2 separate regions of the Homo sapiens genome follow, and region 1 is linked to region 2. The links come from fine-mapping of genetic effects on gene expression. A gene starts in region 2. The other region holds a variant in brackets. All regions are shown on one strand. Distances are between the middles of the regions.

Region 1 (5,381 bases), 48 kb after region 2:
TTAAGATCTGTGCATTTCTGCATGTAAATTATACTTGAATAAAAATATTATAAAATGTGTGTGGTAGCCATGGCAATTTTTCACTCAAATACTCCTCCAAGAGTGAGATTGGCAGGCAGCATGCAGTTAGCTACAGGCCTGCGTTTAGTTACCTACATACTTTCAGGATGTGCTGCAGCGTTGACGACAAGGACATGTTCTCTCCTGCAACTCCACCAGTGCTTAGCAGGGCAGGGATATTAAGGCCACATCTGTGCCCAATGTGAGGCTTCTCTAATGCACAGTCTTTGTTCTGGAGCTCCCTGTAAGGTTGGCCATGACTTTTTCAGAGCTGCACTGCAGTCAGAGGATCTTCCTACCCAACCCAACTATCCTTTCCTTCCCCTCCCTCTTCTCAAGTTTCAGACCCATACCATGGTCTGAAGGCTTTTCCTGCCTACTCTTGCTCCTTCTCTTCATTATCTGTCAGTCATTAATCCCCAAAACCTTTTGCATGTCTAATTCCATCTTGGCTTCTGACACAAACTATCAATTTAAAATAAAACTGTGAGGAAAATGAGGCCATATATATGTCATATCATAGCAGAAAGCAAATCTCACTCTATCCTGTATGATACAGGCTCACCTAAAACAAATAGATTCAAAGTGCTCATATATAAAGTCGTGAACAAAGGCAAATATGAACAGAAAGCAAAGGTCATAATGTTAATATCAGTTTAGAATGAATTCAAGTCAAAATCATTAAATAAGACAAAGAAGGATGCTTTATAGTGCTAAAACTTCCAGATTACAAAATTAAAATAAGCTGGAATAGTTATGCATTGAATAAAAGGCGTTTCATCAGTCCAAAAGCAGGTATTATATAAATAGAAGGAAAGATAGAAATATACTACTTTTAGGACTCTTCACTTCCCTCCATCCATGACAGGGTAAGTGGGAAAAAATATGTTTAGATATGAAAGAATTATGTTAATTCATAAGGTAGATATTTTATATATATAAAATGAGCTATATGCATGGAGAATACAGAATAAAACTTGTTTTCATTGCCAATGTAGCAGTCTATGGAAACTGGCCATATATTTACAAACATAAAAAATTAAATCCCATAACATTGAAAGAGTGGAAGCATCTTTCAATCACAATTTTATACAAGTAGAAATGATTAAGGAGTATAGCAAAAACACTATGAGGTCCCATGAGAGCAGGGACATTGTTGGTTTGTGGGTTTTTATCATTGTATCCTCAGCACCTGGCACAGTGCCTGGCACATAGTAGGTACTCAATAATTCTTATGACTGAGTAAATGAAGAATAGAAGACAATTCTATTGATGTAATTCTTTGTGAAGGACTACAACTAAACTTATTCCACGTAGATGAAAGTCTCTCTGGAGGCAGAGAGATGATATGCTCATTGATTGACTCATTTGTTCATTCTACAAATATTTACTTACATGGCAGACACTAGGCTAAGCATGAAGTAAACAGTGATAAGGGGAATAGACATAGTTCCTGACCTCAAAGAACTCACAGCCCGGGAGGTAACTGTTGAAGAACTTAACAATCCTCTACTTCTAATATTTTATGTATGACTGTAATTATACATTTGTAATGGTGCTGTAATAGAAGGTTCTCATGACTATTTTCTTGATTCTCATACAGATGTTGTATCCAATATATAGATAAAGAAACAGATACTTAAAAAGTTATGCTTTGTATTTCATTTAATTTAAGAAATATTTATTGAGTGCCCACTGTATGTCAAATATTTCTCTAGGAGTTGGAGACACAGAAATGAACAAGACAGAGAATGATCCTTCTAGTGAAGATGGTGGGAGGGAGCTGGTAAACAATAAACAAGTAAGTTTAAAAAATCTGGTAAGTATTACAGAATAAACAAACAGATTGACGCAAGTAGAAAGTGACTATAGAGAGGGAATTCAAGGAAGGACTTTCTTAAGGTTGTGACATAGAAACTGAAAAATAAAGAGTTAGGGGAGGGGAGTGGAGCAAGACGGCAGAATAGAAGCTCCACCGATTGTCTCCCCCCAACAAGGACACCAATTTAACAACTACACAAAAAAAGCACCTTCATAAGAACAAAAAATCAGGTGAGCACTCACAGTATCTGGCTTTAACTTCACATAACTGAAAGAGGTACTGAAGAGGTAGGAAAAACAGTCTTCAATCACCAACACCACTCTTTCCCCATTCTCTGATAGTGGTGGCATGGTGCGGAGAGCATTTCTGTGCACTTGAGAAAGGGATTGATTCAGTGCTGCCCTATTATAGCAGAAAACAAAACTGGACCAAATTCAGCTGATGCCCACCCACAGAGAGAGCATTCCAATCAGCCCTAGCCAGAGGGGAATGGCAGATACCAGCGGTCTGAACTTGAGTGCCCACAAACCTTGCCACTGTGAGCTAAAGTGCTCTTGGGACCTAAATAATCATGAAAGGCAATTTGAAAAGATTGAAAGGACTCACCTGAACTCCTAGCTGAGTCCTAATGTGGAACTGGGCCCAGAGCCAGTGGAATGGGGGGACATGTGACCTACTGAGACACTGGC[A/G]GGGGCAACCAAGAGAGTGCTGGCATCACCCCTCCCCTAACCTCAGGCTGCACAGCTCATGGCTTCAAGACTCCTTCCCTCTCCTTAAGGAGAAGAGAGGGAAGAGTGGGGAAGACTATGTCTTGCATGTTGGATACCAGCTCAGCTACAGCAGGATAGGGCACCAGCCAGAGTCGTGAGGCCCCCCTTTCCAGGCCCCAGCTTCTGGATGACATTTCTAGATACATGCTGCACCAGAAGGGAACCTGCTGCTTTGAAGGGAAAGATCTAGTCCTTCAAAGGATTCATCAACTGCTAAGTGAAGAGCCGTTGGGCCCTGAATAACCAGCAGCAATACCCAGGTACTACGTCAGGGGGGTGAGACTCTGAGACTCGCTGGCCTCAGGTGAGACTCAGCACATTCCCAGATGTAGTGGTTACATGATGAAATTCCTCCCCTGGTTACAGCTTGAGAAAAATGGAGGCAAAAGTAAAGGAGACTTTGTCTTGCACCTTATGTACTGGCTTGGCCACAGAAGGTTAGGGCACCAGGTGGGCTCTTGGGTTCCATGACTCCAAGACTTGGCTCTTGGATGACATTTCTGGACCTGCCCTGGGTCAGAAGGGAGCCCACTGTCTTGAAGGGTGAGTCCCAGGCCAGGCAGCATTCACCATAAGCTGACTTATGAGCCCTTGGGCCTTAAGGGAACATCAGTGGTAGTCTGGTAGTACTTCTTGTGGGCCTGTGGTGGTAGTGGCCATGGTGTGAGGCTCCTCTGACTTTGGAAAGGGAGAGAAGAGTGGGAAGGACTGCATCTTGTGATTTGAGTGCCAGCTTAGCCTCAGTACAATAGAATACCTGGTAGACTTCTAAGGTTTTTGACTCTAGTTCCTGGCTCCAAGATGGCAGCTCTGGACTCACCCAGGTCCTGAAAAAGATTGCCATCATGAAAGGATGGACACAGACCTAGATGGCTTTGCCACTTGCTGATTGTAGAGGTTGCAAGCGATAGCCAGGGAGTGGTTACAGCAGGCCTTGGGTGAGACCCAGTGCTGTGCTGGCTTTAGATCCGACCCAGCACAGTTCCGGTATCAGTGCCCACAGGAGAGCTTGTATCACTCCACCCCCAGCTCCAGTTGGCTCAGAACAGAGGAGAGAGAGAGAGAGAGAGAGAGAAAGAGAGAATCTGTTTGTTTGGGAGAAAGTAAGGGAAGAGAATGAGAGTCTCTGCCTGGTAATCCAGGGAAATCTTCTGGACCTTTCCAAGACCATCAAGGCAGTACCTCTGTGAGTCTGCAAAGAAGCACAATATTAAATGGCGTGTGGTGCCCCTTAACACAGATTCAGCTTAGATCACAATACCCACATCATTTCAAACATCTGGAAAGACTTCCCAAGAAGGATGAATATAAACAAGCCCAGAATGAGAAGACTACAATAAATCCCTGACACTTTAATGCTCAGACACAGACAAATATCTACAAGTTTTAAGACCATCCAGGAAAACATGACCTCACCAAATAAACTAAATAAAGAACCAGGGACCAATTCTGGAGAAACAGAGATATTTTACCTTTCAGATAGAGAATTCAAAATAGCTGTGTTGTGGAAACTAAAAGAAATTAAACATAACACAAAAGGGATTCAGAATTCTACCAGAAAAATTTTATCAGACAAATATGATAGATAAATTTTATTAGAACCCGGGACCAATTCTGGAGAAATAGGATATCCGATGTTTCAGCAGAGAATTCAAAATAGCTGTGTTGAGGAAACTCAAAGAAATTCAAGATAACACAGAGAAGGAATTCAGAATTTTATCAGACAAATTTAACAAAGAGATTGAAATAATTAAAAAGAATCAAGCAGAATTCTGGAGCATAAAAATGTAATTGGCGTATTGAAGAATGGATCAGATTCTTTTTAATAGCAGAATTGATCAAGCAGGAGAAAGAATCCATGAGCTCGAAGACAGGATATTTTAAAATACACAGTCAAAGGAGATAAAAGAAAAAAACAATAGGAAGAATGAAGTATGCCTTCAGAATCTGGAAAGTAGACTCAAAAGAGCAAATCTAAGAGTAATTGCTTGTAAAAAGGGGTAGAAAAAGAGATAAGGGCTGAAAGTTTATTCAAAGACATAATAACAGAGATCTTCCCAAACCCAGAGAAAGACATCAATTTCCAAGAACAAGAAGGTTATCAAACACCAGGCAGATTTAACCCAGAGGATACTACCTCAAGGCATTTAATAATCAAACTCCCAAAAGTCAAGAATAAGGAAATAATCCTAAAAGCAGCAAGAGAAAAGAAACAAATAATATACAATGGAGTTCCACTATATCTGGCAGCAGACTCTTCATTGGAAACCTTATAGGCCAGGAGAGAGTGGCATGACACATTTAAAGTACTGGAAGAAAAAAAATTTTAACCCAGAATAGTATATCTGGCAAAAATATCCTTCAAACATGAAGGAGAAATAAAGACTTTCCAAGACAAACAAAAGCTGAGGGATTTCATCAACACCAGACCTGTCCTACAAGAAATGCTGAAGGGAGTACTTCAATGACAAATAAAAGGATGTTAATGAGCATTAAGAAATCCTCTGAAGGTAGAAAACTCACTGGTAATACAAAAGCACGCAGTAAAACACAGAATATAATAACACTGTAACTGTGGTTTGAAAACTACTTTTATCTCAAGTAGAAAGACTAAACAATGAACAAATCAAAAATAATAACTACAACAACTTTTCAAGACACAGGTAGTATGGTAAGCTATAAATAGAAACAACAATAGTTAAAAAGTTGGGGGACAAACTTAAAGAGTA
Region 2 (5,381 bases):
CCATGGTAATTTTAATGTATTTATATCCTTTCTAAAATACACTATTTACTTCCATATATTCTTAGCAAAATATGCTGTATAACCATTAATCTTTATTTTTAGATACTTTAACATCATCATTATGAACAAAAGCTGGTGAGGGCTTCCAGAGCTATTAAATTAGATAGGGCTGCCTATTACAAACTGGGATATGTGCTGGTGTACCATAAATTAAACTTAACATATCTTTCTTGAACATTGATCCAACACAACAGTAAGTAATTGAAAATGCTTTGCATATATTTAAAAAACAAAATATAATACCATTGACTCACCAAATATTTACTGAGTGTCTACTTTGTGCTAGATACTGCTCCAGGCCCCTGGAGATGAAGCATTAGGAAAATTAGAGAAAAAAAACAAAACAAAACCAAAACCTGAATTCATGGAGTTTATATTCTAATGGAGGAAGGAAGGCAATAAGCAAATAAATAAACTCTATAGTATGTTAGATGGTGCCAAGTGAAATGAAAGAACAAAACGAAATAGAGAAAAGGTTGTAATTATAAATATGGTAGTCACAGGAAGCCTCAATAAGAAGGTGCCATTTGATTAAAGGTCAAAAAGAAGGAGAAAGCCAGCCACTGGACTATCTGTGGGAAAAGTTTGTGGACAAAACGAAATGTAAATGCAAAGGTTGGAACTGGGCCCACTGGGCAACAGCAAGGACATGGTGAGACTGCAGAGGAGGGAACAGGCAAGTAGCAGATGAGGTCAGAAAGGTAAAGGGGCCAGGTCTTCAAGGGCCTTAGAGTTTTTGTATTGACTTTGTTTATCCTCTGGGTGAGATGTAGATGCTGGAAGTTTTGAGAAAAGAGACATGCTCTGTACTCATGTCTTAGAAGGATACTGGGGCTGCTGGGAATAAAGGATGTTGGAGTAAGGACAGAGAAGCAAGAAAGAAGCATTTAGGAGAGCCTACCAATAAGCCAGGTGGGACGTGCTGCAGGCTGGGACCAGGGTCGTAGCAGAGCAAGTGCAGAAGTCCTAGGATTCTGAGGTGGAGCCAATAGAAAGCTATGGGCTGATGTGGAGAGTGAGAAGACAGCATAACCAAGTTTACCGATATTTACTGAGATAGAGAAGGCTGAGGAAGGAGCAAGTTTGGCCTGGAATATCAGAAGCTCAGTTTGGAGAGGTAGAAAGCAAACTTCAAATGAACGCTCTGCAGGAAAACAGAAGAAATTTGAACTTCCCGATAGCCCTCTTCAAGGACCACTCCAAGAAAGGGAAAAGGCAGATTTTAGTATCCTCTGCTTACCAGGGGCCTTGGGCAGTTACGTTTTTGAAGCACTAATAGCGCCGTTTGTTCCCATTCTAAATGCTCAAAGTGCTTTCTCGCTTTCTCAGGGTTTGCTTTTTTTTTTTTTTTTTTCTTTTGAGACGGAGTCTCCCTCTGTTGCCCAGGCTGGAGTGTAGTGGCACGATCTCGGCTCACTGCAACCTCTGCCTCCTGGGTTCAAGCGATTCTCCTGCCTCAGCCCCCGGAGTAGCTGGCATTACGGGCGCCCGCCACTATGCCAGCTAAATTTTGTATCTTAGTAGAGACAGGGGTTTCACCATGTTGGCCAGGCTGGTCTCGAACTCCTGACCTCAAGCGATCCGCCCGCCTGGGCCTCCCAAAGTGCTGGGATTACAAGCATGAGCCACCGCACCTGGACAGGGTTTGCTTTTATCCCTTTGTCTCCCTCTGGCTTCCAAGCTGACAGGTACACTTTTTTCCCCCATCTGCGAATGTACTCATCTGATCCCATAAGCCGCCTCCACTTTCTAATTCCCTGGAAGCTTGGAGGCCGGAGAAACAAGCGAATTACAATCGTGTGGAGGCTCAGCGAGCTGCTGGCGCCACAGGCATCTGTCAGGTGCTGGCCTGACTTCCTGGTTCTGGGGAAAAGAGACTTCATTTCGCAGTCGGGTTCACGGAATCCAGGGCCTGAGAGGTGAGAAACTTGAGGTCCGACTGCGCCCCAGAACAGCTGGGTGACGTCCCTCCAAGCCTCAGGCTCTTCCTCAGGGCCGACGAACTTCTTGATTACCGGGGACCTACCCAAGTCTTTCTTCTGGAGTAAGCTCTGTCAAAGGAACCCACTTCCTCTCTAACTTTTCTCACGGATGATAAAGAGATTTCCGTTCCGCAGCCGACCCCAGCAACCCTGGGGCAGAGGTGCCGAGGCCTGGAAGCGGACCTCGGACGACGTTTGACCGAGGCATTAAGGCGGGGAATGCCTTACCTGCCCGGGCGCGGGCTGCTGAAGCCGGCGACAGAAGAACCAGCCGAACTAGGAAGCGCCGCGAAGGGGCGGGGCCTGCCGGGTTGGCCCCGCCCCACTTCCCCGATGGGCTTCATCTTGGCGCCTCCAGGCGGCTCCACAAAGTGAGAAACTCCACGTATTGCGTAGGGCGCGTCTTTACGTGGGCGCCTGCCCCTTTAATTACGCCCCTGTCGGAGGCTGAAACACTTAAGGCTTCCGGGCATGCGCACAGCGTTGTGCAAATGAATGCCTTCCACTGAACCGAGGTAGACGGGGTCGAGTTTCTTGCGCGATGGTGGGCTTGTATGTGTGTGTGTGTGTGTGTGTGTGGGGGGGGGGGGTGACGAGGTTGGCATTGAGGATCCATACCCTTTGCGCCCAAAGAAAGGTGACGTGGACTAGTGTCGTGCCTTTGGACAGGCAGAGTAAGAGGAGGGAGAAGAAACAGGTAGAGCTGCTGGCCTTGTCGGGGACACCTTTGGACGTGCTGGAGGGCAACGACGCCCTAGTTTTCTGTGAAGTTAAGTAGCTTCTGCAGGACTGGGTTCAGTATTTCTAGTACCTTCTCAGGATCCCTCCTCCGCCAACGAATTCCTCAACCACGGGCCAAGCAAACTACTCCCCCGCCCACTGTCAGCAGCAGTCTCTGTTGAATGGGAATACTGCACCTTCAGGCTTAACGCCACGTGGGCTCCTTTGCTGTCCTCCAGGTCAGTTCCACTCTTCTACCAGGATGCTGGAATTACATTCTCCCCAAGTTTCCCTACCTGTTTCACTTGCTTAGAATGTCTGTCTTCCTCCTTTTTTCTGGGAGAAAGAAAAGATCATTATTCTTTCAGGGCCAATCCCTACAGCTATGTTCTTGACCATGCTGTTTTGTTTTTGAACTCCTCTAACTGTTACTCCATCGGATACATCTTGCTCATTTCCATCAGAATCATCTTACAATTCCAAAAGCATGTTTTGGAATTGTGTCACTTTTCTACTCAAACACTAACAGTAGCCATCCATTGACCACCCAATAGATTCTAAGTCCTTGTCAGGGCATTCAACATCTTCCATAATCTGGTACTAACTCAGCTACATTTTCCAGCACTGTAGTCTCCCTGCATTCCCATCCCCACTGCTCTGTATCTGGACTGCTTGTTTTTCTTGCACACATTGCATGTTTTGTTTGTACATTACTTGTGAGGTCTCTGCCTCATTTCTATCTCTTGAACTATGGAGGACTTAGATGGCCACTTCTTGCATTATGCCTCTTCTAATTATCTTCCACTTCATTCCTACAGCTCTTATTTTGTACTAGTTATTTCATTTATTTAACAATAGTATTTATTGCAGACCTACCATGTGCTTGACACTGTTCAAAATGTGTGATCATCAGTAGTAAATAAGGCAGACAAGGTTACTCCTCACGTGGAACTAACATTCTCTTTGGAGGAGATATACAATAAATAATAAAGAAAAACTTTACCTAGAACTGCTATGCAGAAAATTAAATAGGGTTTTGTGAAAGAGAATCACTTGCTGGGCACGGTGGCTCACGCCTGTAACCCCAGCACTTTGGGAGGCCGAGGCGGGTGGATCACGAGGTCAGGAGTTCAAGACCACCCTGGCCAATATGGTGAAACCCCATCTCTACTAAAAAAATACAAGAATTAGCCGGGCGTGGTGGCGCGCCCCTGTGGTCCCAGCTACTCGGGAGGCTGAAGTAGGAGAATCGCTCGAACTCGGGAGGCGGAGGTTGCAGTGAGCCGAGATCATGCCACTGCACTCCAGCCTGGACGACAGAGTGAGACTTCGTCTCAAAAAAAAAGAGAATCACTTGCAGGTTCCTGTAGATTATTGGTCAGGAAAAACTTCTCTGAGGAAATGAATCCTAAAAGATGCAGCTATATGATTGGGGAGGGAACAATTTAAACAACAGGAACAGTTAGCACAAAACTATTGAAGAAGGCCAGAGTAGCTGGAGTATAGTGGGTAATGGGGTAAAGGTACAAATGAGTTTGGAGAATAAGCAGGGTCCCTAATCTTAGATGTCCTTGGAAGCCAGGGTGAGTAATTTGGATTTTATTGCAAATGTGACTAGAGGGTTTTAAACTGGATTGTGATATGATTTAATTTACCTTTTAAGACCATTCTGGCTGGTTTGTGGGCTAGTTATAGAAGCAGGAGTTAGGGACCTTCACAATATCTAAAAGTTTTTGGAATGGAAGTATTAAAGTTGGTGTGATAAAGGACATTGGGAGTCATAAGAATCAGATGCTTAAGGTTAATGCAGTTTTTGGAGATGAGAAAGTCAAAGTTATGACCGTGACAGTGGATGACCAAGATGAAGTAGAGGTGTGAGGTTGAGGTTGAGATTGAGGACTTGAGGGTCCAAGACATTGAATGGATGATCCATATAGATGATCATAAAAATCATGTTGGATAAGAAGGTAGTGAGCCAGAGATCAGTGAATGAAGCAGAGTTGTCTGGGGATCCGAGAGAGGATGACAGCAGATGGTAAAGCCCAATGGCAGGCTCTTCAAAAGAATTGGGGTTTTTGGAGGTAGTAGAGGAAGAAATGGCTTGCAACGAACAGTGACAAACATAGACCAATATTTACAGCCTCCAGGTCCTAAGGTAGATGGGTGGGAAAGAAAAAATAGCCTTTACTTGAGAGGACTGAAGAAGAAGCAGCCTGAAGAAATAGCCAGATTTCAATTAGGGCAAGAAAGTGAGGGAACTGTACAGGAAATTAAGTAATTAAGGAAAGTAAGTATATCTTATATATTCCTTAGGAAATTAGGATATGGAGAATTTGTAGTGATTTCTATATGGCATGATGGAAAGGATTGAGAAGGTGTGATTTGCTAAATTGGTTCAGATTAGTAGAATACATTATAGGTATGAGATGATGGTCCAGATGATGATAAGTTACTTGGAGAATGTGGGGGAAACACAGAACTCACTAGTATGGGGCCCCTGGGCAATTTATCTTTCCTGCAGCTCCATATGGTATGGTAGCCATGGGTTTGTGTGAAAAGTGAGAGATCAGAGTACTATTCTCTTGCATAGTGTTTCCAGGAAGCTCTGTAAGGGTTTCT

What was found. PIP is the estimated chance that this variant, and not a neighbour inherited with it, causes the effect. A credible set is the group of variants that fine-mapping cannot tell apart.
Region 1: its variant is the best candidate, but not a certain one, in a credible set for the expression of PUS7L in whole blood (TOPMed, PIP 0.77).

What each region holds. Positions count from the first base shown.
Region 1 is chr12:43,707,668-43,713,048 of GRCh38, reverse strand. No RefSeq gene overlaps it. Among named protein-coding and RNA genes, the nearest start is that of PUS7L, 48 kb to the left of the region's middle. The variant A/G (reference allele first, on the strand shown) is at 2,572.
Region 2 is chr12:43,755,906-43,761,286 of GRCh38, reverse strand. It overlaps PUS7L (pseudouridine synthase 7 like), which reads left to right and starts at 2,497. Exons shown (of 9, transcript NM_031292.5): 1 at 2,497-2,557. It overlaps IRAK4 (interleukin 1 receptor associated kinase 4), which reads right to left and starts at 2,336. Exons shown (of 12, transcript NM_016123.4): 1 at 2,271-2,336. RefSeq lists enhancers at 1,630-1,689, 2,310-2,419, 2,760-2,809.